2 separate regions of the Homo sapiens genome follow, and region 1 is linked to region 2. The links come from fine-mapping of genetic effects on gene expression. A gene starts in region 2. The other region holds a variant in brackets. All regions are shown on one strand. Distances are between the middles of the regions. Region 1 has its middle 26 kb from the start of DRICH1. Region 2 holds the start of RGL4 (ral guanine nucleotide dissociation stimulator like 4).

What was found. PIP is the estimated chance that this variant, and not a neighbour inherited with it, causes the effect. A credible set is the group of variants that fine-mapping cannot tell apart.
Region 1: its variant is the best candidate, but not a certain one, in a credible set for the expression of RGL4 in whole blood (INTERVAL, PIP 0.53).

What each region holds. Positions count from the first base shown.
Region 1 is chr22:23,651,022-23,666,563 of GRCh38, forward strand. It overlaps the pseudogene GUSBP11 and the pseudogene ASLP1. Among named protein-coding and RNA genes, the nearest start is that of DRICH1, 26 kb to the left of the region's middle. The variant T/TC (reference allele first, on the strand shown) is at 6,914.
Region 2 is chr22:23,683,975-23,699,516 of GRCh38, forward strand. RGL4 (ral guanine nucleotide dissociation stimulator like 4) reads left to right here and starts at 7,039. Exons shown (of 11, transcript NM_153615.2): 1 at 7,039-8,235; 2 at 8,361-8,554; 3 at 8,695-9,017; 4 at 9,785-10,000; 5 at 10,373-10,476; 6 at 10,976-11,045; 7 at 12,640-12,714; 8 at 13,197-13,271; 9 at 13,864-13,887; 10 at 14,238-14,359; 11 at 14,870-15,194. The coding sequence starts at 8,057. The coding sequence ends at 14,909. It also overlaps the pseudogene GUSBP11. RefSeq lists a silencer at 1,188-1,482 and enhancers at 11,446-11,946, 12,681-12,760.

The sequences.
Region 1 (15,542 bases), 33 kb before region 2:
GCCTGAGCCACATAGTGAGACACCCCGTTTCTACAAAAAATTTTAAAAATTTGCAGGGAGTGGTGCACACCTGTGGTTCTAGCCACTCAGAAAGCTGAGGTGGGAGGATCATCTGCGTCCAGGAGTGTGGGCCTACAGTGAACTATTACTGAACCACTGCACTCCAGCCTAGGTGACAGAACAAGACCTCATCTCTAAAGACAATTTAAAAAGTCACAAAGTTAAAAATTAGGCCGGGTGCAGTGGCTTATGCCTCTAATCCTATCACTTTGGCAAGACAAGGCAGGCGGATCACCTGAGCTCAGGAGTTCGAGACCAGCCTGGCCAACAAGGCAAAACCCATCTCTACTGAAATAAATACTAAAATTCGCTGGATGTGGTGGCGCACACCTGTAATCCCAGCTACTTCGGAGGCTGAGGCACTGGAATTGCTTGAACCTGGGAGGCAGAGTTTGCAGTTAGCTGAGATCGTGCCACTGGACTCCAGACTAGGCGACAGAGTGAGACCCTATCTCAAAAGAAAGAAAAAAAAAATTAAAGAAACCCTGAACTCAGTAGCAGACACTCCCTGTTTCTCCTAGCAGCCCCGCCCCACCTACAGGGTGACAATTTGTGTGCCCTTGTTTCCCCCCAGGTCTGTGAACCAGGGGTCACAGGGAGTTGAGGAAGAGGAGGGGTCTCTGACAACACATCAGAGACTCCTCAGCAGCTCCCCATCCAGGTCTGCAAGGATCAAATCCAGTCCCAAAGACACCAGGTGAAAGCCTGGGATGAGGCCAATATGAGGCAGCCTTTGGCTCTTTTGCCAGATGGGCTAGATGGGGACGCGGAGCATGGGATGGGAGACGTGGGGCACAGGCAGGGTAGCAGGTGAGTCTGGCTGCTCCAGGCACAGCCAAGCTAGTGCCTTAGCTTCCTGCCCTTAAATCCGCAAAGGGTGAGTTTTCTATTTTATTTTTGAGACAAGGGTCTCGCTCTGTCGCCCAGGCTGGCAGTGGCTCAATCTTAGCTCACTGCAACCTCTGCTTCCTGGGTTCAAGCAGTTGTCCTGCCTCAGTCTCCTGAGTAGATTGGATTACAGGCGCCCACCACCACACCTGCCTAATTTTTGTATTTTTAGTAAAGATAAAGAGTTTCACCATGTTGGCCAGGCTGGTCTCGAACTCCTGACCCACCTGCCTCGGCCTCCCAAAGTGCTGGGATTACAGGCATGAACCCCTGCACCGGCCCCATGAAGGGTGAGTTTTCCTTGCCAGCTGAGCTAGACTGCCATGGGAATATTGCCGTCTGCAGGAAATGCCCCACTCCTGGCTGCTCTGCCTCGACCCTGGAGTTTTGGGATGCCCCGGTCCCCCAGGGCCTGGCACCCCCACCCTGTTCACCCCTGCCACCTAGGTCTGCTGTTCAGGCTGCCATCACACCTCTCTCTGCCCCCTGGGTGTCCCTTGGGTACTCACACCTCTGCCCAATCCCCCATAGTCCTGATGAGCTCCCAGAGGAGGCCCGAGAGCGTGAAGCAGGTCTGCCACATCCACAACCTGAGGTCCGTGACCACCTGTGCGAAAAGGAGGTAGTGCTCAGGGAAACTGACATATTACTTCCCTGGGGAGCCAGGACCACTGCTGAGCTCTGACTGCCCCCTGGGCTCCCCAAGGTTGGGACAGCATGGAGTTGGGGGGTGGAGGGGCTAGAGGCACCTGGTCATTCCAGCTCCATCCCATGTGCGCCTTCCCTGCGGTTTCACCAATGATCACAGAATGATGGTGCTAATGCTCAAAGTGGCCCCGCGCAAGGTGGAGAGGGGAGGCCAGGAAGGCAGTGGGGCTGCAGGGTTCGTACCTTCAGGTGGCACTTGTTGGCTGTGTGGATGTCCTCATCATTGGGGTTGAGTTTGAAGGTGCCCTGGGCCCACTCCTCAACCACCTATAGCACGTAGCAGCAATACCAGGGGTCAGGTGAGCAGGCATCAGCAGCCGAGAGCCCCTGCCCTGATCCCACCTTATTCCTGATGACTGACTGTCCCTGTCCAGGAGCTGAGTCCTGGAAGTGCACCCTGGGAGGGGGCATCTCGAGCCCAGCACACCTTTACCCATAAGCCATGTGGGCCACAGGGATCATTAAAGGAGAGAAGAGGTCAAGGCACACAGTTAAACAGCACTTGAGTATATAATTAGTTCAACGTAAAACCATCCATCTCGGCCTTGGCGAGGAGCCCTGCCTTCTCCATGCCCCGGCTGTAGGCTCTGCTGCCTTGAATATCCACCTCCCACAGGTGCTGGTCGTAGGCTGGATGTGTTGAACTTCTCCATGATGGGGTCCACTGCACCCACTCTGGCCAGGAGAGCAGAACAATTAGTCTCTCCTCCACCATCCAGAACAGTGCCTCTTGCAGAGTCTCCTTGGGAAACTTACCAAGTCTGATGGTAGCAGGGGCATGGGACCATCCTAACTGGGAAGACAAAAAGGCTGAGACCTTCCCAGAGTCACCTTGGGAGTGAGCATGGGAACATGGCTGAACACCAAGACAGAGCCAGGCTGGACTGCAGTAGTGCAACCTCGGCTCACTGCAACCTCCGCCTCCCGGGTTCGTGAGATTCTCCTGCCTCAGCCTCCCGAGTAGCTGGTATTACAGACACGCACCACCACACCTGGCTAATTTTTGGATCATTAGTACAGACAGGGTTTGACCATGTTGGCCAGGCTGGTCTTGAACTCCTGACCTCAGGTGATCCTCCCATCTCGGCCTCTGAAAGTGCTGGGATTATGGGCATGAGCCACTGCGTCTGGCCTTGAAGTTGGGGTCTTTCCCACCACATGGCACCACCCCAAGGAGATGGTGGCAGGGCCCGAGGCACCCCGGGACCAGAGCAGAGCTTCTGGAACCTTTCCTGCCACTGACCAAGGTGCCAGGTGCCATCCTAATTGATGACACAACTCTCTGGGGTAGGCACCAATACAATCCCACTATGAAGAGGGGGAAACTGAGGCACAGGGAGGCATGCAGCCTGCCCTTACCCGGGGAGGGAGAGCCAGGGCTGCAGCCCAGCAGTTTAAAGTCAGAACCCATGCTCTTCACCCCTGTTCCACCACGGCCTCTGAGCTTGGCTCTGGTGTCCTGAACTTTTGCTGCAGGGACAGGCAAGGAGGCACTGACGGTCTCCACCAAGCTTAAGTGCCCTGCAACTCTCTCCCTCACAGCTTGGAGTCAGACTAAGAGACTAAGATCCCAATTCCTACTGCTCCCTTGGCTCTGAAGAGCACTCTGACACCCCCCATTGTCACTGGCCTTCTAGGAGGTCACTGGGTGACCCTTACTCCCCAGGAGCCAAGGGTAGAGAGATGGTACGTAGGCATCTACATTTTGTTCTTATTTTTGAGACACGGAGTCTCACTTGGTCGCCCAGGCTGGAGTGCAGTGGTGCGATCTCGGCTCACTGCAACCTCCGTGTCCCAGGTTCAAGCCGATTCTCCTGCCTCAGCCTCCCAAGTAGCTAGAATTACAGGTATGTGCCATCACACCTGGTTGAGTTTTGTATTTTTAGTAGAGACGGGATTTCACCATGTTGGCCAGACTGGTCTTGAACTCCTGGCCTCAAGTGATCCACACACCTCAGCCTCCAAAGTGCTGGGATTACAGGCATGAGCCACCGAGCCCAGCCCATTTTGTTATTTAAAAAAAATTTTAATTCTTTTTTAGAGACAGGGTCTCACTCTGTTACCCAGGCTGGAGTGCAGTGGTGCCATCACAGTTTACTGTGGCCTCAAACTCCTGGGCTCAACCAATCCTCCTGTCTCAGCTTCCCCAGTAGTTCGGACTACAAGCATGTGCCACCACACCTATACATTTTTGAAAAATTTTGTAGGGCTGGGTGCGGTGGCTCACACCTGTAATCCCAGAACTTTGGGAGGCCGAGACAGGTGGATCACGAGGTCAGGAGATCGAGACCATCCTGGCTAACATGGTGAAATCCTGTCTCTACTAAAAATACAAAAATTAGCTGGGCATGGTGGTGCTCGCCTGTAGTCCCAGCTACTCAGGAGGCTTGGCAGGAGAATCGCTTGAACCCGGGAGGCAGAGGTTGCAGTGAGCCAAGATCGTGCCACTGCACTCCAGCCTGGGTGACAGAAGGAGACTCTGTCTAGGAAAAACAAAAATTTTGCAGAAAATATGTTGAGACAGGATCTATGTTGCCCAGGCTGGTCTTGAACTCCTGGGCTCAAGCAATCCTTCTGCTTCCGAAAGTGCTGGGATTATAGGCATAAGCCAAGGCGCTGGCCACATCTATGTTTTGAAAGCGGGCAGAGGCCAGGGCATGGGACAGATCGGGGAAGGGTACAGGGCACCTGGGAAGTAGTCCTAGTGCCCAGGACTGGGGGGGAGGGTGGGGTGGAGGTGGGCACGTCACTTGACTGACATCCTTTTTGTGGAAGGGACTCTACAATGGCCAATAGGGACATATGTCCTCCTCTGTCCCCCTGCAATGCCCCAGACCTCTGTTAACCACCTGGCCTGGGGCCTATTATAAAAACTCAGGGTTGGGAGGCCCAGATGGGTGGATCCCTTGAGGTCAGGAGTTTGAGACCAGCCCGGCCAACATGGGGAAACCCTGTCTTTACTGAAAATACAAAAATTAGCCAGGCGCAGTGGCGGGCAGCTATAGTCCCAGCTACTTGAAAGTCTGAAGCAGGAGATTCACCTGAACCCTGGAGGTGGAGGTTGCAGTGAACAGAGATGGCACCATTGCACTCCAGCCTGGGTGACAGAGCAAGACATCTTCTGAAAAATAATACAGTACCTATGTGATAGCCTTGTTTTGAGCATTCAATCAGGTAACATTTGCAAATTGCATGCATAACATGGTGCCTGGTGCTCAGGAAGGAATTGGGAAATGCCAGCAGTTACTAAGGGAGGGCAGGCAGGGGACAGGACATGTTTCAGCTCCACTCCTGGTTCTTGTGTGCACCCAGAGACCTCTACCGTGCTCTGGCCCTGAGCTGTGAACTGACCCCTCCATGCCCAACAGCCCCAGCTGCCAAAGGACTCTGCCCTGCAGAGGGAGCCTCCGCCCCCACCCCGTCTTTTGAGCTGGTCCTGCCCCTTACCCCACAAGCTGCCCCACCAAGCCTAGATCTCCAGCAAAGCACTAGGTGGGGCCTGGATCTTTCTGATCACTGGGGCCAGCCAGTCAGAATTGGAGCCAGCCTGCCCCTCAGCTGGGAGCCTGGCAGTACCTCCCCCAGCGGGGTCCTGGGCCACCCTGCCTGTATTATTAGTAATAAAAACTGCTAAATATGCAAGGCTGCAGCCAAACCAATTAGTGCCAACCTACAGGAAGGCCTGGGGCAGGCTGAGGTCACCTGGAGTGCTGGGCTGGTCCAACGGCAGACCACTCTGCTCTAGGACCAAGCGCCTATCCTTACTGGCAGGCATAATAGGATGCCACTGGGAGATCAGAGTGAGGTGCCTCCCCTTGGGCACTGAGGAGAAGGGAGGCCCAGTGTGGTAGCAGAAGGTGCTGCTCCGAGCCAGGACACTTCTGGGCCAGAATGGTCTCTTCAGGGCCAGGGGATGGGGCACTGAGTTGGGCTGGGTTGAATGAGCAACAGTCAAGGTCGAATGTACACGGGAAATATCAATTTTGGTTTTGGGGTTTGTTTTTGTTTGTTTGTGTTGGTTTGTTTTGAGACAGAGTCTGGCTGTTGCCCAGGCTGGAGTGCAGTGGCAAGATCTTCACTCACTACAACCTCCACCTCCCAGGTTCAAGCAATTCTCCTGCCTCAACCTCCCGAGTAGCTGGGATTACAAGCGCTTGCCACCACGCCAGGATAATTTTTCTATTTTTAGTAGAGATGTGGTTTCACCATGTTGGCCAGGCTGGTCTCAAACTTCTGACCTCGTGATCCACCCATCTCAGCCTCCCAAAGGTGCCGGAATTACAGGCATGAGCCACTGCACCCAGCCCGCCTGGCCCATTTTGTTTTTCTTTTCTTTTCTTTTTTTTTGAGATGAAGTTTTGCTCTTGTCACCCAGGCTGGAGTGCCATGGCATGATCTTGGCTCACTGTAACCTCCACCTCCCGGGTTCAAGTGGTTCTCCTGCCTCAGCCTACATAGTAGCTAGGATTACAGGCACCCACCACCACCCCCAGCCAATTTTTGTATTTTTAGTAGAGATGGGGTTTTACCATGTTGGCCAGGCTGGTCTGGAGCTCCTGACCTCAGGTGATCCGCCTGCCTTGGCCTCCCAAAGTGCTGAGATTACAGGTGTGAGCCACCCCTCCCGGCCCCTTGCCTGGCCCAATTTTTAATATATTACAGGATTGTGGCAACCTTGTGTTGAGCTAGTGTAGTATTGGTGCTATTTTTCCAACAGCACGTGCTCACTTGGTGTCTTTGTTCAACATTTCGGTAATTCTTATTGCATTTCAATAATTCTTATCGCCTCCCAAATTGCTAGGATTACAGGCGTGAGCCACGGCTCCTGGCTGTTTTTTTGTTTTTGTTTTGTTTTCTTTTGTTTTTTTTGAGATGAGATGGAGTCTCACTCTGTCTCCAGGCTGGAATGCAGTGGCACGATCTCGGCTCACGCAAACTCTGCCTCCCGGGTTGAAGCGATTCTTCTGCCTCAGCCTCCCGAGCAGCTGGGACTACAGGGGTGAGCCACCACGTCCGGCCTGGCTGTTTCTTTGTCCTCCTCCTCCTCTTCCTCCTCCGTTTCTTTTTCCTCCTCCTGTTTCTTTTTCCTCCTCCATTTCTTTTTCCTCCTCCTCCTCCTCCATTTCATTTTCCTCCTGCTCCTCCTCTTCCATTTCTTTTCCCTCCTCCTCCTGCTCCATTTCTTTTCCCTCCTCCTCCTCCACCTCCTCCTCCTCCAACTCCTTCTGCTCCGTTTCTTTTTCCTCCTCCTTTTTTT[T/TC]CCCCTCCTCCGCTTCCTCCTCCTCCTCGTAGGCACGAGACACCATGACTGGCCTGGTTGTTTCCTTTTCCTCCTCCTGCTCCTCCTCCACCTCCCAAATTGCTGAGATTACAGGCATGAGCCACTGCACCTAGCTGTTTCTTCTTCTTTTTTCTCCTCTTCCTCTTCCTCCTCCTCCATTTTATTTTATTTTTAGATATGGAGTCTCACTCTGTTGCCCAGACTGGAGTGCAGTGGCCTCACTGCAACCTTCACTTGCCTGGATTCAAGCAATTCTGCCTCAGCCTAACAAGTATCTGGAATTACAGGCAGCAGCCACCATGCCCAGATAATTTTTGTATTTTTAGTAGAGACGGGATTTCACCATGTTGGCCAGGCTGGTCTCCAACTCCTGACCTCGTGATCCGCCCACCTCGGCTTCCCAAAGTGCTGGGATAACAGGCCTGACCCACTGCGCCCAGCCCGCCTGGCCCGTTTCTTTTGTTTTCTTTTTTTTTTTCTTAAAACAGAGTTTTGCTCTTGTTGCCCAGGCTGGAGTGCAAAGGTGCGATCTTCCCTCACCGCAACCTCCACCTCCCGGGTTCAAGCGATTCTCATGCCTTAGCCTTCCGAGTAACTGGGATTACAGGCACTTGCCACCACGCCTGCCTAATTTTTGTACTTTTAGTAGAGACAAGGTTTCTCCATGTTGGCCAGGCTGGTCTTGAACTCCTGACCTCAAGTGATCCGCCCTCCTCGGCCTCCCAAAGTTCTGGGATTACAGGCGTGGGTCACTGCGCTGGGCCTACAGCTCATTTCTTACCACATAAAGTTTTGCGCCTCTCCACAAAACTGCCATCAGGGATGTCCCCAGAAACCATTCATCCCAGGCGCCACGCAGAGAAGAGCTGCTTGTTCTCCTTTTCCCTTTACCTCTTCCATCTCACCTCATCTTGTTCATTCATTCATCCCTTTTCCATTCTCACTTTTAAGCGTTAACCTTTCAAAACCCTGTTTTCCCCTATAAGTAATGTCTTGTAACTCCCGCAATCACCATATCCTTCTCCAACCCACCAAACTGCCATCCTGAGTTTATGGTAAGTCCATAAACTAAGAAGAAATGGGAAACATTCATTGCAAACCTGGCAGCCCCTCATCCACCCAACGTGACAGCACAGATGTTCTTGTCTTTGAAGACCCCCTTTTTTTTTTTTTTAAGACAGGTCTCACTCTGTCACCCTGGCTCAAGTGCAGTGGTGTAATCATAGCTCACTGCAGCCCCCAACTCCTGTGCTCAGGCGATCTGCCTGCCTCAGCCACCCAAGCAGCTGGAACTACAGGAACACACCACCACACCTAGCTAATTTGCTTACTTTTTGTAGAGAAGGGGTCTTGCTATGCTTAGCAGACTGGTCTCGAACTCCTGGCCTCAAATGATCCTCCCACCTTGGCCTCCCAAAGTGCTGGGATTACAGGCATGAGTCACCATGCCCAGTCTAAAGACTTTTAAATGCTGCCATATTCAAGATGTGTTGAAACTCACCTGTATTCGATGAGCCTGCTTTTTGCAAGTGAGTAATATAAAACAGACTGAAATACCTTAAGCTTCTCAGGCTTTGTACCTTCCTAAAGTAAATCCATGAGGTCCAGTTTTTCCTTCCTCCTTGGCTATGAAATAGACAAGAAAAAGGCAAGCTAGCCATTTACATCTCACTATAGCAGACTCTCCTGTTTGCTTTTTGACTGTATTTGGGAAGCAGGGGCCTGACTGCTTTCCTACTTACTAAGCACAACTCACTTTTCCTAGGAAATCCTCAACGCAACCTGCATGGATTAAACCAGCTCCTCGCTTTGTTTCCAATATTCTTACAATCAAAGTGTCCAGAATGGGCAAGGCAACCTGAAAAAATGAGGACGGGTACATTATCCTATGAGCCAAACTGCCGCTTACACTGGTTAGTCATGAAATCGGCAAAATTCCAGATGAGCTCTCCAACCACGTATTTTCTGAGTTTTTGATCCAGACCCAGATGGTACTGCTCTAGCAGACTTTTCTGGTAGTCTTCACTGAACATCAGAGGTGGATCCTGGGATTCAAGGCAAAGAGAATTTAAGAGTCAGAACTGGCAGAATTGTAAATGTTAGATAAAAAATAAAGATCCACTTGATGGTGACCAAAATATCTGTCCTCGCAGGGGGCTATAGTGACTGCAGGACTCACTGATGCTAGGGTAAAGACAGCCAGGGAATGATGTAACCCAGAGTTAAAAAGGAGGTTTAAAAAAACAACATATTAATTAGTAACTGCTTTATTTATAAATGTAATCTGATATTCACTTTTTCTTACTTTTCCGTCTCTATCTGCTGGTACAGTCTTAAGGCTGAACTACGTTAGAAGTAAAAATATGACTTTGGGCCAGGTGCACTGGCTCATGCCTGTCATCCCAGCACTTTGGGAAACTGAAGTGGGAGGACTGCTTGAGCCTAGGAGTTCAAGACCAGCCTGGGAAACATAGCAAGACCCCATCTCTACAAAAAGTACAAAAATTAGCCAAGCATGGTGGAACACAACTGTGCTCCCAGCTACTTGGGAGGCTGAGGTGGGAGGACTGCTTGAGCCCTGGAGGTCGAAGCTGCAGCGAGCTGTGTTTCCACCACGGCACTCCAGCCTGGGTGACAGAGTGAGACCCTATCTTAAATAAATAAATAAATGTATGTATGTAAAATTAAATTAAACCAGGCTGGGCATGGCAGCTCAGGTCTGCAATCCCAGCACTTTGGGAGGTCGAGGCAGGAGGATCACTTGAGCCCAGAAGTTCAAGACCACCCTAGACAACCAGTGAGACCCAGTCTCTACAAAAAGTCTAAATATTAGCCACGTGTGGTGGCACATGCCTGCGGTTCCAGCTACTTGCGGGGCTGAGGAGGGAGGATCGTTTGAGCCCAGGAGGTTGAGCAGTGAGCTGTGATAACGCCACTGCACTCCAGCCTGGGCAACACAGTGAGGCTGTCTCAAAAAAAAATTTTTTTTTAATTAAACTAAATAAAGTTATCCTAGTCATATGTCAAGACCTCAATAGCCACATGGTCCCAAAACCTCTGGATAAAACCTAATTCCCAAAACCTGTGGATATTACCTTATACAACACAAGAGTGACTAATACCTTAAGTGGAAAAGTATGTTAAAGATTTTTTTTTTTTTTTTGAGACAGAGTCTCACTCTGTTGCCCAGGCTGGAGTGCAATGGCGTGGTCTGAGCTCACTGCAACCTCCGCCTCCCAGGTTCCAGTGATTCTTGTGCCTCAGTCTCCTGAGACTACAGGTGTTCGCCACCATGCCCAGCTAATTTTTTTTGTACTTTTAGTAGGGATGAGGTTTCACCGTGTTGTTCAGGCTAGCCTCGAATTCCTGGCCTCAAGTGATCTGCCTGCCTTGGCCTCCCAAAGTGCTGGGATCACAGGTGTGAGCTACCCTGCCCGGCCTTTTTTGCATTTTTTTTTTTTTTTTTTTGAGAGTGAGTCTTGCTCTATCACCCAGGCCGGAGTGTGTGGCACAATCTCGGCTCACTGCAATCTCCACCTCCCAGGTTGAAGCGATTCTCCTGCCTCAGCCTCCTGAGTAGCTAGGATACAGGCATGCGCCACCATGCCCAGTTAATTTTTGTATTTTTAGTAGAGATGGTGTTTTACTGTGTTGGCCAGGCTGGTCTCCAACTCCTGACCTCAAGTGATCCACCCTCCTTAGCCTCCCAAAGTGCTGGGATTACAGGCATGAGCCACCGCACCCGGCCTAAAGTATGTTAAAGATTTTGAGAGGAGGAGATGATCCTGGATTATCTAGATGTGCCCTGAATGTGACCACAGTGTCCTTGTAAGACAGACACACAGAGGAGAGGACACACAGCAGAGGAGAAACCAGTATGACCATGGAGACAGAGACTGGAGTGAGGCAGCCACAAGCCAATGAATGCTGGCAGCCACAGGAAGTGGGAAGAGACTGTGAAAATTGTCAAAATAGAGCTGCGGCCACACACAGTGGCTCACACCTGTAGTCCCAGCACTTTGGGAGGCCGAGGTGGGTGGATCACCTGAGGTCAGGAGTTCGAGACCAGCCTGACTAACATGGTGAAACCCCATCTCTACAAAAATACAAAAGTTATCTGGGCATGATGGCGGGTGCCTGTAATCCCAGCTACTGGGGAGGCTGAGGCGGGAGAATTGCTTGAACCCAGGAGGCGGAGGTTGCAGTGAGCCGAGATTCCGCCACTGCACTCCAGCCTGTGCAACAGAGCAAGACTCCATCTCAAAACAAAACAAAACAAAACAACAAAAAACAACTCTGAAAAATAGAGCCAGGGAAAGGCCATGAAGAGAGGACTCTCGTGCACAAGTGCCCCATTCTCGGCTGGGTGTGGTGGCTCATGCCTGTAATCCCAGCACTTTGGGAGGCTGAGGTGAGAGGATTGAGGTAAGAGGATTGCTTCAGTCCAGGAGGCTGAGGCTACAGTGAGCCTTGACAGTGCAACTGCACTCCAGCCCAGGTGATAGAGCAAGACCCTACCTCAAAAACACAACTCACAACATTACACAAAGGCCATCACAACCTTACACAAAAAATACTTCTGCAAAGACATCTGCCCAGGAGTGGCCTGTCCAGCCTCAGACTAGTGTCACCCTTATCACTGATCCTAGTAGCCAAGGATGATAATTCCAAAACAGTTATATACCAAAGCTAAGCTATGAGGAAGCAAACACATAAGAATGATATAATGGGCCGGGCGCAGTGGCTCATGCCTGTAATCCCAGAACTTTGGGAGGCTGAGGCGGGTGGATCACCTAAGGTCAGGAGTTTGAGACCAGTCTGGAGAACATGGTGAAACCCCGTCTCTACCAATAACACAAAAATCAGCCAGGCATGGTAGTCCCAGCTACTCGGGAGGCTGAAGCAGGAGAACCTCTTGAACTGGGAGGTGGAGGTTGCAGTGAGCCAAGACTGCACCATTGCACCCCACTCCAGCCTGAAAGACAAGAGCAAAACTCTATCTCAAAAAAAAAAAAAAAAAAGGGTCTGGGAGCCAAGATGGCCGAATAGGAACAGCTCCAGTCTACAGCTCCCAGCATGAGTGACGCAGAAGACAGTGATTTCTGCATTTCCAACTGAGGTACCGGGTTCATCTCACTGGGGAGTGCCAGACAGTGGGTGCAGGACAGTGGGTGCAGGACAGTGGGTGCAGCGCACTGTGCGTGAGCTGAAGCAGGGCGAGGCATCGCCTCACCTGGGAAGTGCAAGCGGTCAGGGAATTCCCTTTCTTAGTCAAAGAAAGGGGTGACAGGCGGCACCTGGAAAATCGGGTCACTCCCACCCAATACTGTGCTTTTCCAACGGGCTTAACAAACGGCACACCAGGAGATTATATCCCGCACATGGCTCGGAGGGTCCTACGCCCACGGAGCCTCGCTCATTGCTAGCACAGCAGTCTGAGATCAAACTGCAAGGCGGCAGCGAGGCTGGGGGAGAGGCACCCACCATTGCTGAGGCTTGAGTAGGTAAACAAAGCAGCCGGGAAGCTCGAACTGGGTGAGGCCCACCACAGCTCAAGGAGGCCTACCTGCCTCTGTAGGCTCCACCTCTTGGGGCAGGGCACAGACAAACAAAAGGCAGCAGTAACCTCTGCAGACTTAAATGTCCCTGTCTGACAGCTCTGAAGAGAGTAGTGGTTCTTCCAGCACGCAGCTTCAGATCTGAGGATGGGCAAACTGCCTCAAGTGGGTCTGTGACCCCCGAGTAGCCTAACTGAGAGGCACCCCCAGTAGGGGCAGACTGACACTTCACACAGCCGGGTACTCCTCTGAGACAAAACTTCCAGCAGAATGATCAGGCAGCAGCATTTGCGGTTCACCAATATCCGCTGTTCTGCAGCGACTGCTGCTGATACCCAGGCAAACAGGGTCTGGAGTGGACCTCCAGCAAACTCCAACAGACCTGCAGCTGAGGGTCCTGACTGTTAGAAGGAAAACTAACAAACAGAAAGGACATCCACGCCAAAAACCCATCTGTACGTCACCATCATCAAAGACCAAAGGTAGATAAAACCACAAAGATGGGGAAAAAACAGAGCAGAAAAACTGGAAACTCTAAAAATCAGAGTGCCTCTCCTCCTCCAAAGGAATGCAGCTCCTCACCAGCAATGGAACAAAGCTGGACAGAGAATGACTTTGACGAGTTGAGAGAAGAAGGCTTCAGAAGATCAAACTACTCGGAGCTAAAGGAGGAAGTTCGAACCAATGGCAAAGAAGTTAAAAACCTTGAAAAAAAATTAGACGAATGGCTAACTAGAATAACCAATGCAGAGAAGTCCTTAAAGGACCTGATGGAGCCGAAAACCACGGCACAAGAACTACGTGACGAATGCACAAGCCTCAGTAGCCGATGCGATCTACTGGAAGAAAAGGTATCAGTGATGGAAGATGAAATGAATGAAATGAAGTGAGAAGTTTAGAGAAAAAAGAATAAAAAGAAAGGAACAAAGCCTCCAAGAAATATGGGACTATGTGAAAAGACCAAATCTATGTCTGATTGGTGTACCTGAAAGTGACAGGGAGAATGGAACCAAGTTGGAAAACACTCTGCAGGATATTATCCAGGAGAACTTCCCCAATGTAGCAAGGCAGGCCAACATTCAAATTCAGGAAATACAGAGAACGCCACAAAGATACTCCTCAAGAAGAGCAACTCCAATACACATAATTGTCAGATTCACCAAAGTTGAAATGAAGGAAAAAATGTTAAGGGCAGCCAGAGAGAAAGGTCGGGTTACCCACAAAGGGAAGCCCGTCAGACTAACAGCTGATCTCTCAGCAGAAACCGTACAAGCCAGAAGAGAGTGGGGGCCAATATTCAACATTCTTAAAGGAAAGAATTTTCAACCCAGAATTTCATATCCAGCCAAACTAAGCTTCATAAGTGAAGGAGAAATAAAATACTTTACAGACAAGCAAATGCTGAAAGATTTTGTCACCACCAGGCCTGCCCTAAAAGAGCTCCTGAAGGAAGCACTAAACATGGAAAGGAACAACTGGTACCAGCCACTGCAAAAGCATGCCAAATTGTAAAGACCATCGAGGCTAGGAAGAAAGTGCATCAACTAGCGAGCAAAATAACCAGCTAACATCATAATGACAGGATCAAATTCACACATAACAATGTTAACCTTAAATGTAAATGCACTAAATGCTCCGATTAAAAGACACAGACTGGCAAATTGGATAGAGTCAGGACCCATCAGTGTGCTGTATTCAGGAAACCCATCTCACGTGCAGAGACACACACAGGCTCAAAATAAAGGGATGGAGGAAGATCTACCAAGCAAATGGAAAACAAAAAAAGGCAGGGGTTGCAATCCTAGTCTCTGATAAAACAGACTTTAAACGAACAAAGATCAAAAGAGACAAAGAAGGCCATTACATAATGGTAAAGGGATCAATTCAACAAGAAGAGCTAACTATCCTAAATATATATACACCCAATACAGGAGTACCCAGATTCATAAAGCAAGTCCTTAGTGACCTACAAAGAGACTTAGATTCCCACACAATAATAATGGGAGACTTTAACACCCCACTGTCAACACTAGACAGATCAACGAGACAGAAAGTTAACAAGGATATCCAGGAATTGAACTCAGCTCTGCACCAAGCGGACCTAATAGACATCTACAGAATTCTCCACCCCAAATCAACAGACTATACATTCTTTTCAGCACCACACCACACCTACTCCAAAATTGACCACATAGTTGGAAGTAAAGCACTCCTCAGCAAATGTAAAAGAACAGAAGTTATAACAAACTGTCTCTCAGACCACAGTGAATCGAACTAGAACTCAGGATTAAGAAACTCACTCAAAACCACTCAACTACATGGAAACTGAACAACCTGCTCTTGAATGACTACTGGGTACATAACAAAATGAAGGCAGAAATAAAGATGTTCTTTGAAACCAACGAGAACAAGGACACAACATACCAGAATCTCTGGGACACGTTCAAAGCAGTGTGTAGAGGGAAATTTATAGCACTAAATGCCCACAAGAGAAAGCAGGAAAGATCTAAAATTGACACCCTAACATCACAATTAAAAGAACTAGAGAAGCAAGAGCAAACAGATTCAAAAGCTAGCAGAAGGCAAGAAATAACTAAGATCAGAGCAGAACTGAAGGAAATAGAGACACAAAAAACCCTTCAAAAAAAAATCAATGAATCCAGGAGCTGGTTTTTTGAAAAGATCAACAAAATTGATAGACCACTAGCAAGACTAATAAAGAAGAAAACAGGGAAGAATCAAATAGACGCAATAAAAAATGATACAGGGGATATCACCACCGATCCCACAGAAATACAAACTACCATCAGAGAATACTATAAATGCCTCTACGCAAAAAAAAACTAGAAAATCTAGAAGAAATGGATAAATCCCTAGGCACATACACCCTCCCAAGACTAAACTAAGAAGAAGTTGAATCTCTGAATAGACCAATAACAAGCTTTGAAATTGAGGCAATAATTAATAGCTTACCAACCAAAAAAAGTCCAGGACCAGATGGATTCACAGCCGAATTCTACCAGAGGTACAAGGAGGAGCTTGTACCATTC
Region 2 (15,542 bases):
CAGGGACCCACACTCGTGCCTGCAAAATCTGAACTGAAAATTAGAATCGGAGCAGCAGGGTTGATTCTAAAAGGGGCTGGGCTCGCTTTTCTCCCTGCTGCAGTCATTACTCGTTTCCCCTGGCAGAGGCAGCCGGGTGGAGGCTCATCTCTTCAAGCAGCTGGGAGAGACACCCCACTACCCACCCTGCAGCTGCTCCAAGGATACTGGAGACAAAAAGACAGGGGCTGGGGAAGCAAGATGTTCCTGCCTCGACCAAGACAGCAATTGGCCAAATGCCCTGACCCTGCTGGCATGGTTACCGCAGGCCAGGCAGGCATATTCAGGGCTCAGGATCCCTCTGCCTGACTTTTCAAATGGGCTGTTCTCAGTGACTCTGGCCCCCTCCCACCCTGGGCTCACTCTTGAGAAACTCCTAAGCCTTCTCTGGCCCTTCAGGGGCCTTAACGCTTATGTGTAGGACCAGGATGCTCTGAGTGACCTACTTGGTCAATGGGCTGCTACAGCAGAGCTGTTGGGGAAGGCAGAGAGAAAAAGGACAATGACAGACAAAGAACCACTCAACACCTCAGAGACCAGCTTTGTCCCCCACCCAACCGCCTTGCTCCCCACATGAACACCTGCTTGCAGGAAGCCAAAGTGGGTCCACAGCAGCCCACCTCTGTTCTCACTCCCAGGGCAGACAAAGCAGCAAGAACAGGTGACACACAGCCCCGGTGACCCTGTCCCCTCCCTACCCGTGCCTACTCTCCCATCAAACCTGGCTTCGAGGGCTGCCCGCCAGTCCTGTCCAGGCCTTATCTGGCTCAGAGCAGATGATCCCCTGCACCTCCCACCCTGAATCACACAGCTACACCCAGCACATGCTACAGAGGCCCAGCACACTCTGGATCACATCCAGAAACTCCACAATAGGGGAGGAGACATGCTGTTTCCCAGGAAGGGCAGCTCCCCAGACTTGGTCATTCTCAGACTCCTCCAGTCAAAGGCCGGGCACAGCCAGCTGGGATCGCCATGCTTCACTCTGACCCACACGACTGGCCTTGCCTCCTCTATGGGAAGAGACCCCTCAGCACAACCTCAAACCGAGACATAACAGGACAGGACAGGCTGGATGCTAGAGAGGCCAGCCAGATCTCCACACAAAGGCTCTGCTCTTAAGCAGGAGGTAGCCTGAGGGTCAAAGGTTTCCTGAAGCAACTCAGGTGAGACCTCACATACAAGAGCCCCAAAGAGGCTGCAAAAGCACCAGCTCAGCCAGCCAAGAACCCAGGTGTCACACCCTTCTCAGACCACTGAGGATCGCTGGGATTCAGCAGGAAAAGGTGGACATGACAGCTGATGGACCAATACTTCCCAACACCCTTCCAGCAAGCAGCTGTGCCCCGCCCCTCCCCACATGAGTCACTCAACTTCAGTCCTGCACATGGATGCCTTTGACCATGGGGTCATGGCTTTGGTCTCCTGCCATAGGGGCAGTGAGAGGAACAATGGTGGTCTGGGAAGGAGGATCCTAGACTGGGTGTCCCACAAGACCAGGCTGTGACAGATCCCAGAGCCAATACTCATGCGCCAGCCAGTCCCCAAACCCAACAGCTACCCAAAGCCCAGGATATAAATAGCCTGTGCACTGCTAAGCAGATACTTCAGGGAATGATCTGCTGGCTGTGAAGAAGATGCGGCCTCAGTAGGGTTCCACGAGCCTTCTGCCAGCAAAATCTTCTTTGCTTGGATGCCCATTAGAAACACTAAGGGAGCTCTTCAAAGGAACAGGCCAGACATGGTGGCTCACATCTGTCAACTCAGCATTGTGGGAGGCTGAGGCAGGAGGACAGCTTGAGGCTAGGACTTTTAAGACCAGCCTGGGTGGAACAGTGAGACCCCACCTCTACAAAAAACACAAAAATTAGCATGGCATGGTGGTGCATGCCCATAGTCCCAGCTACTTGAGAGGCAGAGAAGGGAGGATTCCTTGAGCCTGGGAGATCAAGGGTGCAGTGCCCATGATCATGCCACTGCACTATGGCCTGGGCAACACTGCAAAGTCCCGCTTTCAAAAAAGAAACAAACAAAACAAAACAAAACCAAAGATGCCTGTCTCCTGCCCCATCAAATAAATCCAAATCTCTGCAGGGTGACACAGGGTATTAACATTCTTAAATTTTGCCTTTGCTGAAGTAAACATATAGTAATGGCTGAAAACCACTGCGTTATGTAAATACACTTCCTATGACTTATTTGTAGTCCTTTTGTATCTAGCAATTTCTACAGACCCTCTCTGTGGGCTTCGGAAGCCAGAATGGGCAGGGCCAGGTGTGAGGTGTCCTAGGACACTGAGGGTAGAGCACAGCTCCCAGCTCAGGGGGACCCATTTCTGAGGCTAAGGCACCCACCTGGGGCTCAGCCTATCTTCAGAGGGAAAATCACACCTCAGAACACCAGACACCCAAAAGAAAGCTCCAGTTCGGCAGATACCTGCCAATAGACCCTGGAGTGGCTGCCCCAGGGAAAACTGCCATTGCACTGTCAGCTCCCTCCAGCCCTCTCTCAGGTCCCAGCAGGAGCAGATTTCTGACTAAGCTCAGAGGTCTCAACAAATGGCAGGTTGAACATCAGAGGAGTTATTAATAGGCCTATAGTTACCTCAAGACTCCACCTTACCAGGGCCAAAAATGAGTCCTGGGAGGGCAGCCAGAAAGAAAGTAGGGCAGAGAGGAAACACAGGGAGAGGGGCCCTGGGACCACGTCAGATATGGAGGGAACCAGGGGAACGAGAGCAGCCCTGATGATTGTACTCCCCACAGCCCCTGCATGCCTGTGAACCCTGAGAATTCAGGGTGAGGAGCTCACTCTTGCCTTTCACCTGTTCCTGGGCTCTGGCAGGCTGGCCTGCTTCCTGCCCCAGCCTCACCCACTCTCCGCACTCCTCGCCACTGATGTGGGCAGCTGATCTCTCCGGTTTGCTGGGCTCTCACCCTCTGCCCAATGGCACCAAGTTAACTTCTTCGCATGCTTTATTTTCTGTGATTAAAAAGGGAAACAATTCTCACTAACGCCATTTCTCAGAGGAGAAAACAGGCACAGGGATGTTCTATGACTTCCTCACGATCACCAAGCTACAAGGGGGAGCTGGGCTTTGAATGGAGGTCTACCCATGCTCCTAAAGTTGAGGCGTCCTCCAAGGAAAGGACAGCACCTATAAAAGCTCAATGAATGGGGCGGCAGTGTCACCACTAAGCCCGACCACGCTGCTACTCTGATATCCAACTTCCAGCCTCCAGAACAGGGAGAAATACAGTTCTGTTTTTGATGAGCTCCCCAGGCCGTTACAGCTCTTTCTTTGCTGTAACAGCCTGAACTAGCCCAGAAGTGCTATTCCATCATCTGTGTCATATTCCATCATTCAGAAGGGAGTCACTAACCCCTCAGTGCTGTCTCTGTGGACGCTGCCCACCCTAGGCTGAGATGAGGCACAGGGTCTGGGTCTAAATAAAATGGGAAGGCACTGGAAGGTGCAATGTCATAGGAGGAGGATGTCTGAATTTCATTTAATCTCAACCTCTACTGGTGCAGCATGAAAGATGAGGCCCAGAGCAAAAGTGTCTTTTCCCGAGATCACACTGTGGACCCCAGGCCCACTGGAGTTGCATTAGACGTTACCTCTCACCCCTTCTTGTATTTGTTCCATTTCTAAGTGTGTGCAATATCCACAGGGAACACCACACCATGAGTTTTTAAATATTTATCTCAAACATAACCTCATGAGTTCCCTAGGAAAGAGATGCTAGCATAACCCCCATTGTGCATGCTGGGGAGACCCCAAAACACCAAAGGAGTTCTCTAGGGTCTCACAACTGCTAAAATAAAGGCTGTTTGACCCAGCACTGTCTCCTCAAACCTGGGACCCTGGTTATATCCAGGTCTTCCCAAGGTGCTGAAGGGGCACACTTTTTCATAATGGTGACTACGTAAGGAGTTGACGGGGGAGGGTGAGCGGTCAGAAGCCCAGAGGGGCCTTTGAGTAGGACTTATGGAAAGGAGGAGCTTACAGGATGGAACCTACAAGATGTGACCTCACTTCCTTGCCGACAGACCCCCAACAGAACTTACAATTCTGGTAACTAGGCACCCACATTCTAGAGACAGCCCCATTTCCAGCTCACTTCGTAGGCGATGCTCGAGAGAACAACATGTTCTCCTGCTGTATCCCGACATGCTGCCGACCTCCTCGTCGCACAAGAGGCCAAAATGAGAGTCTTTCCCGAGAATATAGACATTGGTTCAACCCTCACCCTCGACGCCTCTGGCCCTTTGCCAGAAGGCACCCACAGGTAACACAGGGCCCAGGGCAGGCCCATCCAGGCTAGGCCTCAGCTGTGCCCATCAGGGCAGCCTCAGGCCCCTCCCCACTTGTTTGGGGGAAACAGGAGATGAGGGGCCCTCCCTGGATAGGAGCAGGTAGGTTGTCAGGTGTTTGGAGCCTGGTAGGTATGTCAGGTTCACAGCCCAGGCAGTGCCTGGCAGGATGGGAAGGTGAGTGTCAAGGACACAGTTTGTCTGCTCAGATCTGAATCCCAAGTCCTCAAGCTGTCATCTGCCGGAGACCTCAGGCTTCTCTGGCTGGAGGTCTATGCAGATGCTCCTATGTGCCAAATCCTGTTGGGGAAGGGGGTGCCAGGGATGAGTTCTAATGGGGGTGTCCCACTGTGGGGTCAGCCAGACAGGCCACTGACACCTCTTGGCCCGGCTCTCGGGCACTCTCTTTGCAGAGCTCCACACAACAGACCAAACAAGAGCTGTTGGATGGATTCAATTTCTCCATATTCTTCAAAGGGCACGTGCACCACACCACCAACCACGTCCAGTGCCGGTCTGCGGTGAGATTGGGCACAGAAGGGTCTCCACAGACAGGACTTGTGAAAACCAAGGTGGGCCCAGGACTCAGACACGAATATGGGGACTCCCTAAGCTCCATCCTAGGGCGTTCCCACTTGAGTGACCCACTGTCCTCTCCCAAAGGAATCTGGCTGCCATTAGTCCCCAGTGGCAACTTGGTTACAGGCAAAGTCCCTTTCACCTATCAGAGGAAGACCAGAGAAAATCCTTCTGTTTTCACTTTAGGCTATGCCAGGAGTATCTCGGCATGTTGCTTTAAGAATTGAGTACAATGGTAACATTGCAGCAAAATACTCACACTGTTATCATTTTAACTCCCCACCCTAAGTGGATCTCCGGCAACAGGCAGGCAGCTCCGCTGCCCTGCCAGACCTCCTCCAGGACTTAAAATCCAACACTTTTGCACAAACAAGGGGTGGGGGTGGGGGGGGTGCATTGATTACAACAAAAGAAGGTGAAGCGACTCTATGCATTAGTCTTTAAAGTGTCATCTCACAGAACTCATCCCTGCAGCCCCATCAGGCAGGAGTTGTACCCTCGCATGTCATTGTAACATTCCTTAAGGGAGGCCATTTTCCACAGCGGGTCAGCCTCTCAGTGCTGGTGGAGCCTGTCATGATAAAATTCCCTTTCGAGGCAGCCTTTCTACAAGGAGCATAATCCTATGCGTGTCCTAATAGGCTGGAGCAGTTTGCCAGGGCTGCCATAACACGGCACCCTGACTGAAGGGCTTAACCACAGAAATCTGGTTCCTCACAATTCTGGAGACTGGAAGTCCAACGTCAAACTGTCAGCCTGGGGTGGTTTCTCTGGGCCTCTCTCCTTGCCTTGGAGATGGCGGACTTCTATCTCAGTCAGCACAGGGTCTTCTCTTGAACTTCTCTGTGCGCTGACCCCCTCTCCTTGTAAGAACCCCAGGCATGTTAAATTAGGGGCCACCCTAATGAACTCACTTCACCTGAATTACCTCTTGGAGTACTCTGTGTCCAGACACAGTCACATTCTGAGTCTCTGGGGTTGAGAATAGAAACAGTTACATTTGGGGAAGGGGACACAATTCAACCCATAAAATAAACAAATCCCCTGCAGCAGACAGACACCCAGGAAAGGGATATCTGGGTGAAAGGATATGCAGATATCAACTTTCAACAGCTCTAGCTAGTTGACTTTCCAAAAGGGCTCCAGCTGGTCACACGGTCACCAGCAGCCTCTGAAGGTAGCTGCTTCTCTGAACGCAGCCTCCCCTGAATACTAACACGCTTTTAACTTTTCGCCAACCTGCTGTCTGTGTGGCAGAGAAAATCCTTGTTTCATTTCCACTTTCAAACATACATTTGCGTAACCTTTCACGGGTTCAATACCTGCCTGCGTTTTCCCCAAGTCGCCTCGCAGATCCTGGGCCTTGGGACGCGCTTCCTCCCACCCTGGAGTCTTCCGGCATTTTCCCCTTGGCCAGGGCTGGGATGGCCGTAGCTGTTTCTCCAGACTCACGTTCATGTTAAAGGAACAAAAACAATCATATACCTTTAAGTCAAAGAGTTCTTCTAGAGCGTATTGTCCTGTGTGCTGTTGCTGAAATGAGGAGGGGATGAGGCCTCCCCAGGCCTTGAGGACTTGCAGGGATGATGCTCTTCATGCAGGTTGCTGACACAGAGGGTGCTGTTGCCCCACAGCTGACAAACACCGGGACGATGCCTTGAAGGCAGGAATCGTTTTATCATTCTCCATCCTCACATGCAATGTTACTTTGAAAGCCTAGAACGCTTTTCACCATGGGCACCCAGGTTCTCCATATGCACAAGTCCCTGAAGGGTTGGTGCTTCTTGGTGTGAGTTCCAGATCCCGATCCTCTGGTGGTCCATGGTGTTACCACTGACTCCCATGTCCCTCCTTGTCCCCCTAGTATGAAAATGAGATCTGCAGGATGCTAACTTTCCAGCCCGGCACTGGGGAGAAGCTGTTGGGAGTCCCTGGTTCCAGCCTTTCTAACTAAACCCATCTCCTCCTATGCCACCTGCCTGGGCCCCTCCTGGGACTTTATCACTGTGCCACACTTTTTGGAACTACTGGTTAGAAGGTGAGTGTCCATCCCCCTCCAAGACACAGAGGTGCCTCTGTCCCCTACTGGCTCTGTCTTGAAGATGCACCTCTCGGAGCCTCGGTTGGCTCCTCTGGAACAGGGAGTAGTGAGAAGACGAACCTCACAGGGTTCTTGTAGGGACTCAATGATCTAAGACACAGCAAACAAAGGGGTCCCTAGAGCCTAAAACTCTGGAAAATCTGCTGGGGGTGCTGTGATTCATGTTTGTTACTTTTCTCTTCCCCCTCACTTGAAGCAGCTCTCAGCATTCTGCCTCAATGGCCTGTATCACTCACTGTTTGGAAAAACACATAGAAACCAAGTCTGCGATGGCACTGGTAAAGGATGTCTGAGATTCCTTCTGGCTGGTCTTTCTCCTTGACACAGACAGAAGAGGGGTCCCTTGGTGCTGAAAAAGGAGCCACAGGCCCACTCAGACATCTGGAGAGGCTCACTGGGGTTCTCCAAAGGTTGGGGTTCACTCATTCAACACATACATTCAAAACACCTCATTTGTGCATCGCTCTTCTTGGGGCTTGGCATAATTTCATAAACAAAGCAGATGACAATCCCCCGGCCTTGATTCTACTCAGAGTCAGGCACTCACAGTAGACAGAATAAACAAGTCATATCTACAGAATGTTACAGGTGAGACCCTCATGGCCTCCTCTACGTATGGTGGCATCCTCCCAGATTCTGACTAGAATGACGCAGCCCAGCAACAAATATAAACTGGGTGGATTTAGGGTTCTGAAGGGCCTTTTCACCCACAAAACATGGGGGAAAATATGTGGACTCTGGCTGGGGAGAGACTAAAGGAGCTCTGGGGCTCATACTTCTTATAATTCCCACGAGAAGGCTGACATCTGGGGACTTCCCCCACAAGAGGCAAATAGTGAGTTCTGTAAATGGAGACTTAGGTCCCCTGCAAAGCAGAGGGGAGGCTGGGGTCACAGCTGGCCACTGAGAGACCCATCCCCCTCAGCACCGTGGCTTCCCAGCTCTCCCTGTCCTCCTCCCCCCGACATCTGCCCCTTCCCTCCTAACCCCAGGACCAGGGGACCCAGATCTGGAGCTTTGATGAGGAAGCTGCTCACAAATCTGCCTGCAGCTGCAGTCTTGAGTGCCCAGGTGTACAGTGCTGTGCTCCAGGGCCTTTGGGAAGAGAATGTCTGTGGGACGCCAGGGCGCACGAGGGTCTGTACAGCCCTGCTGTATGGCCAGGTCTGCCCCTTCCAGGACAGCACTGATGGCTTACGGTAGGGTGGGGCTGTCCTCCACACTGGCAGCAACAGGCCAGGGACCCAGAACCACGCAGGGGTGCCCTGGAGGGTTGTGTGGGAGAAGGCCAGGCCTCTGACTCAGCTGTCTACTCCATCACCAGCACCATCACCTCCATTTTGTTCAACTGGCCCCCCGAAAACACTTCAGTTTACTATCAGCCCCCGCAACGGTCATCTTTCCGGATAAAGCTGGCCTTCAGGAACCTCTCCTGGCCTGGACTGGGCTTGGAGGACCATCAGGAAATTGTCCTAGGCCAGTTGGTGCTTCCGGAGCCCAACGAGGCCAAGCCAGATGGTGAGGGGGCTTGCAGTCTGCAAGACTTTCCGGGGGTGGTGTTTTGGGGCTACAATTCCCTTAAATTCCACCCGGTCATTTCTGTGCTTGGAAAACCCAGTGAAAAATGACTGGTGTGGTGACCTTTTCTCCTTTTCCAGATCCTGCTCCACGTCCTGGGCAACACGCATTAACAATGCCGGCCCTGGAGCCAGCACCACCACTGCTGGCGGACCTGGGGCCTGCTCTGGAGCCAGAGTCACCTGCAGCCCTGGGTCCACCAGGATATCTACATTCAGCACCAGGGCCAGCACCAGCACCAGGGGAAGGGCCCCCTCCAGGGACAGTGCTGGAGCCACAGTCAGCCCCAGAGTCCTCCTGTCCCTGTCGTGGGTCTGTAAAGAACCAACCCAGTGAGGAGCTGCCTGACATGACGACCTTCCCTCCCAGGCTGCTGGCAGAGCAGCTGACCCTCATGGATGCGGTGAGCAGCTGAGCTTTGCAGGCTGTGTCTCTGGCACCAGCTGTCTCAGACCAGCCTCTCCCTGAGGAGCAGCCAATGCCCTCGGTCCAATTTCAGCCCCACTTCTTACCAACCGTGGGATCTGGATGAGTTTCCTCACCCACAAGCCTTCCCTGTCTGCATGTGGACGGCAGAGATGGGACATCACCAGCGCCAGCTGCACAGAGTGACTGTGCAGACTGAGTGACAGGAGATGGACAGAAAGCAGGGCAGGGCAGGTGCTCACTGTGGGGCAGGCAGGGCCATGGGTCACTCACCCAGCTGCTCAGGAGCCTCACTACCCTCAGCACTTATTAGGTACCTGATGCATACTGGATTCTATGGTAGACACCCAAACAGAGCCCATAGTTGCAGCTGCCACAAGGAAAGTGCACCGGTACGGAGAGGAGTAGTAGAGGGCTGATTGGGATGGGAGGAAGACGAGGCCTCAGGATGGGCAGGCCTGAGCCACCTTCTAGTTCTTAGAGTGTGGATGGCCTGGGAGAAAATGTCACTCTCTCTTCCCACCCTTGTTGGGTTCTAGGCCATGATGCATTCAGGTCCCTCGGGGGCAGAAAACCAAACCCAGGGACTCCCACAAGTCTGGAGCCCATTTTAAAGCTTTCTGAGCTCCAGCTTGGTTCCTGCCAGAGACCGTGGATGACTGTGAGCTCAGTCCCTGCCTGGGACTGTGGGTGACTCTGAGCTGCAGTGTGCTGTGTCCGTGACACTCTCCTCCTCCCCCAAAGGAGCTGTTCAAGAAGGTGGTGCTCCACGAATGCTTGGGCTGCATCTGGGGCCAAGGACATCTGAAGGGGAATGAGCACATGGCACCCACAGTTCGTGCCACCATCGCACACTTCAACAGGCTCACCAACTGCATCACCACCTCCTGCCTCGGGGACCACAGCATGAGGGCCCGGGACAGGGCCAGGGTGGTGGAGCACTGGATCAAGGTGGCCAGGGTAAGCTATGGTTGGGCCTGGGGATTCCCTCTTTAAAAATGGGGAACTTCCTCTTCTCCTCCATCGGCTTTCAGGATCGGCATCTGTATCTCTGGCCTGGACCCTGCACATCCCCTAGGCTCTTCTTGCCAGAGCTTCACTCACCTTGACTCCCACGGCCCAGTGGTGGCTGCTCACTTCCGACCTGGGGTCTTCCTTGGGTTGAACTAAAATCCTCCTAGATGAGTGACATCCACTCGGCCCCAGGTCTGCCCTCCTGAGGCTCCCCAGGCCTCTGCTTCATCCAGGAGGGGAGATCTCAGCAGAGGGGGCTGAGGCTGTAGTGGGCCAAGCTCCAACTCTGAACCGCACAGCTCATTCTTCCCTCTCCAGGAGTGCCTAAGCCTCAACAACTTCTCCTCGGTGCACGTCATCGTCTCTGCTCTGTGCAGCAACCCAATAGGTCAGCTACACAAGACGTGGGCAGGAGTGTCCAGGTGAGGAGGGCTCTCTCCATGGCAGCATCAGGGTTGACCTAGGGACTCACAGGTCTCCCCCCATGTGCCCTCAATGACTCTGAAAGGTTCTTGGAGTCCAGGGACACTGGAGGCAGGGATGGGCCGGTGGCTGTGGTCACTAAGCTGCCCTGGACTCCTAGGCAAGGATTTCCAACTCAGGACTAAGGTTTTTTAACCATCAGGAACAGACTGGAGCCAACTGGAGGCTTTCAGGTGTTTGTACCCAGCAGTGGAACTCTGTGTCCAGCTGAAAGCTAACTGTAAACACGCAGTGGCTCATGTGAAGTGGAGATGGGGCCCAGGGGAGGAGCATGAGAGGTCCCACCCTGGTCCTCTGGAGCCCCTGTGATCAGAGGACTCCACTGAAAACTCTCACCCAGTAAGCTGGGATTCACTGGGTTTTCAAACAAAAGGGACTGGAACTCACAAATCTCCCCTGATTCCCAAATTTACCCTTCTTTCTTTCCTCTGCCCATAGCAAAAGCATGAAAGAGCTAAAAGAACTCTGCAAAAAAGACACTGCAGTGAAGAGGGACCTACTGATCAAGGTACAGTGGAGTCTGGGAGATGCAGGACAAGTGTTTAAGGGTCAGAGAAAAGAGTGAGTTTGGAAGGGCATTGGACCAGGTGTCGAGTGGTTATTTTGTTTGGTTTTGACTTACCTACTAAAAGTGGACTTGAAAAATTCCCTCCATGCCTACCTTGGGCCAACAGGAAGAGTGGTGTGTCGGTCCATGGGCACGTGGGGGCATGGGGGCAGGAGGCCCTGGAAATGGGATGTGGCAATGGCTGCTGGGCTGCTGGGCTGCTGAGCAGGGGTGATGAGCTGCAGCATTAGCAGGGCTCTGGCTCCCATGCTGGTCCATGCTGCTGGCATGGAGCTTCCTCCAGGCTGGAGGGTGATCATGGTAGGTGGGACTTCCTTCCTTCCTCAAACCGGCCAGCAATTCCTCAGGAAGCCAGGCCTCTGCTGCTGCTGCTGCTGCTGCTGCTGCTGCTGCTGCTGTCTGCAGCACACCTCCATGGGCAGGGGGCCTTGGCCTGCACTGGGGGAGAGGGGGAACAACAACAGAGGAAGCTCATGTGGCAGGGAGTCCAGTAACTGCCCAGCTTTGGGTACCAATGGGCATACTGGGGACAGACGTAGCTGTTTGCTGGGACTCCCCACTCTGCCCTTTGCAGACACCCAAAAACGGTCATGTCAGAGGATTCTCACCGGTTAGCAGCGACGCATGCTCATGACAAGTATCTGGGGGATTCATACATTGCTAGGGGATCCTCCCTGACCAGATCTCAGAATCGTCCATGCAAATGAGAAGGCAACATGTCACCCCACCCAGGACTCTGGAAAACCCTGCCATTGCAGTCAGAGATGGCGCATCAGGAGGCTACTTCCTCAGTGGAGAAAGAGAGAGTTCCGTGCACGGAACTCCCCTGGGGGATCATTGGCGAGGCGAAGCCTTTGGCATGGCTCAAACCCAGTTTGCGTGGCAGAGATTCCAGTGGGGCTGGGATAGGCAGGTGCCACTTAACCAGGTCTCCTAAAATGCCCTGTCCCTTTCCCATCACGACTGTATGTGGCTGGAGACCTAGACACTCAAAGACTCCAGAGAACACGACCCTGATGGGTGGTGGTGCTGGGATGTGAGCTGAAGGCAGCCGAGACGGAGCCTCCAGGAGCAGAAGGAGGCGTCCTCTCTTTGGGGGCCCTGGGGAGCCACTGCCCGCTCTGGGCCTCTGTTTCCTCATCTGGAAAATGAAGGGATGCTGAGCCTGTAGTGCAGGCCTCACAGGGTAGAAATGAAGTTCAAGAAAAGAAAGCAATTTGAGGGTGCTCGTGCCTGGTTCTTCCTCAGAGGGATGACGGTGAGAACAACGGCAACAGCTACAGGAAACTGAGCCCTCAGAGGCCCTGTGAGGTAGCTGTGGTTTGCATCACTCTTTACAGAAGAGGAAACAGTCTCAGGGAGGCCCGGCTGCAAGACTGGGTGACACACACAGGGAGTGTGGATCTGGGCCAGTGGTATGAGCACGGTGCCAGGTGGCTCCCGCCACTCCCTGGGGATCCAAGTGCGGGGTGGCTGGGGTGTAACTGGGGGAGAGGAGGAGAGCCTCACTGTCCCTGTCGCTGACACCTGGCAGGCGGGGAGCTTTAAGGTGGCCACCCAGGAGAGGAACCCCCAGAGAGTCCAGATGAGGCTGCGGAGGCAGAAGAAGGTGAGTGAGCCTGTGGCATGGACGGGCCGCAGGGGATCAGAGGACAGGGCTCCCTTCCCCGCCAGCTGGAGGCCTCCATATCAAGACAGCGGGGGCTTCCTCCCCAGCCCTGTCCTCCTGTGGCCACTGGGCCTGGAAAACCTTCATTTGAGAGACCAGAGGAAGGGTCTGGGAAAGCTGGACTCAGACTAGATGTGGGGAAGGGTAAAGCTGGGACCACAGGCCTTTGTGACTTGTTAAAATCCCACCATAGAGGTTAACAAGGAGTGCTTGCTAGACTTGGAGGTCAGCTGGGATACAGGAGGCAGAGAATTGGGAAAGGCAGCTGAGGGTCTTTGGCTGCTCCAACCGGGAGACCTGAGGAGGGGGCTCTGGGAGACAGGGGCTGATGGGATTTCATGGGACAGGACCTTGGGCAGGCACCTGAGGGCCAATACTCATCACCACTACCCCTCCCACCTCCCCACCCCTCCTTGGCACAGGGTGTGGTCCCCTTCCTGGGGGATTTTCTGACTGAGTTACAGAGGCTGGATTCGGCCATCCCGGACGACCTGGATGTGAGTGAGCCTGGGGCAGGGTGCTTGGGAACCAAGATCCTGAAGCTTGGGAGGAGAGGGTCCTGGACCGAGCCTTTAGATCTCAGCCCTTGGCAAACCTCCTCTCCTAAGAGCCTCACAGCTGCTCCTGTGGGTGGGGGTGTCAGGCCCATCTCATCACCTCTGAGTGATGGAGGCTCCATGGCAGCCACCAGGCCCTATTCCTGAGTGGTGAAGCTGCAGAGCTGCCTGACTGCAAAGCTGCTGAGGTGTGGGCTGAACTGGGCTCAGCTTCTCCCTAGGGTAGTCCCGTAATAGGAGGGTGAAATTGAGCCTCTCCAAGGGCAGGCAGTTCCAAGGTCACTGAGCGCTTTCTTTCTATGAGAGACCTCAGTTTCCCTGTCTGTCATCACAGAGGGTTGGGGCAGAAGGTCCCTGGGCCTCAGCTCCCATTCCCCCTGCTCTAGAGCCCGGAGCCTGAGGCAGGTCCAAGTCCTGTCGTGTGCACATCCCCTGACCCTGGTGGCCCTGGCAGTAGTGCAGCATGGGAAGGGGTGGGGTGGGGCTGGTTGTGGGCCAGGGGCCTTTCTGATGGACTCTGTCTGCCTTCCAGGGCAACACCAACAAGAGGAGCAAGGTGAGCAGCTGGGGCACTCACGTTGGATGAGGGTGGGGATGTGGACGTCACAGTCCACCCTGGGCAGGACACTCCCTGGCTCCATCCTCTACATCTTAGGCTTACTGGGAGTGTTTGACACACACAGGAGGAGGGGACCTATCCCAGGAGAAAATGGGAAAAGCACTGGAATCAAAGACCAATTCCTGCAGGAGGGGCTGTTTATATCCAACTCTGAGAACAGGCTGGGGGCGCTGCATGGGACCCCTTCAGAAAACTGCCCCAGGGACCAGCCCCTTCTCCCTGCCTGCCAAAGGCCCCCACAGCAACTTCCACCCAGGCCCTGTCAGCATCCTGTCCTCTGTCTCTAGGAGGTCCGAGTTCTGCAGGAAATGCAGCTGCTCCAAGTGGCTGCCATGAATTACAGGCTTCGGCCTCTTGAGAAATTTGTCACCTATTTCACAAGAATGGAGCAGCTCAGTGACAAAGAGAGGTGAGGGCCTAGCCCATGGGCTGAGGGTGGGAGAAGGCTCTCCATTTTTTTTTTTTAACATGGTCTGGCTCTGTCGCCCAGGCTGCACTGCAGTGTCACCATCTCTGTTCACTGCAACGTCTGCCTTCTGGGCTCAAGTCCTTCCTCAGCCTCCCAAGCAGCTGGGACTACCGCTGTACACCACCATGTCCGGTTGTTCTGCTGTTGTTGTTCTGGTACAGATGGGGTTTCACGATGATGTCCAGGATCGTCTCAAACTCCTGGCCTCAAGCAATCCACCCACCTCAGCCTCCCAAAGTACTGACGTTACAGGTGTGAGCCACCCCACCTGGCCTAGAGGAGGCTCTCCCGTGGCCAGCTGCAGAGAGCCTATGGCCATGCCTCCACGGCCAGCATCAAGCCCTGTTGCATGGGGACCACTGGGGACCCAGGATTCCAGCTGGGCAGGCACTGACAGGGGACCTGATGTGTGGCTCATGGTGGCCTCACAGCTGCTTCTCTGTCCTGCAGCTACAAGCTGTCCTGCCAGCTGGAGCCCGAAAACCCGTAGGCTGGCAACATCCTGCAGTGGCTGGGAACCCACCGGGATGCTGGCCAGAACACCGGCTCTGCACCATCCCTCACCCAGACCGTAGACACCAGGGAACCACATCTAGGAGGCTGGCAGCTCAGCTGCATCTTGCCCTGGATCCTCATCACCAACTGCTCCTGCTGGCCAGGATCAGGCCATGGGACTTTTGTGAGTCAGGCGGGAGACCATTTTATGTTTATTTTCTTTAGTGTATAAGTAAGGGTTTTTTCTTAACTTTCGTTAAAATAAAATTTTAAAAAACTATTCAAAATGTTCTGTAGTTGTTGGAATGAGAAAAGTAACTCCAGTGCGGTAACCATATACCAGTCTTTAGGATTCATAGCCTAGCATGTCAAATTGAGGCTATGGCTGAACAAGTTATGGAATAGCATTCACATTACACATGCCAAGCATTTAATGTTTTCCTTCTTTATTCAAATTATTGTTAACTCTGCTTAAGAAAACAAACAGAACAAAACAAAACCCCTTAAAAGCCATAGTATGTCACCCAATCTATGTCACCCATAGTATGTCACATTTGTTCTACTGACCAGCTATTCTCAAACTTAAATTCTAGTTAAATTCAAGTTCCACTGGGTTACTCAATTTTCT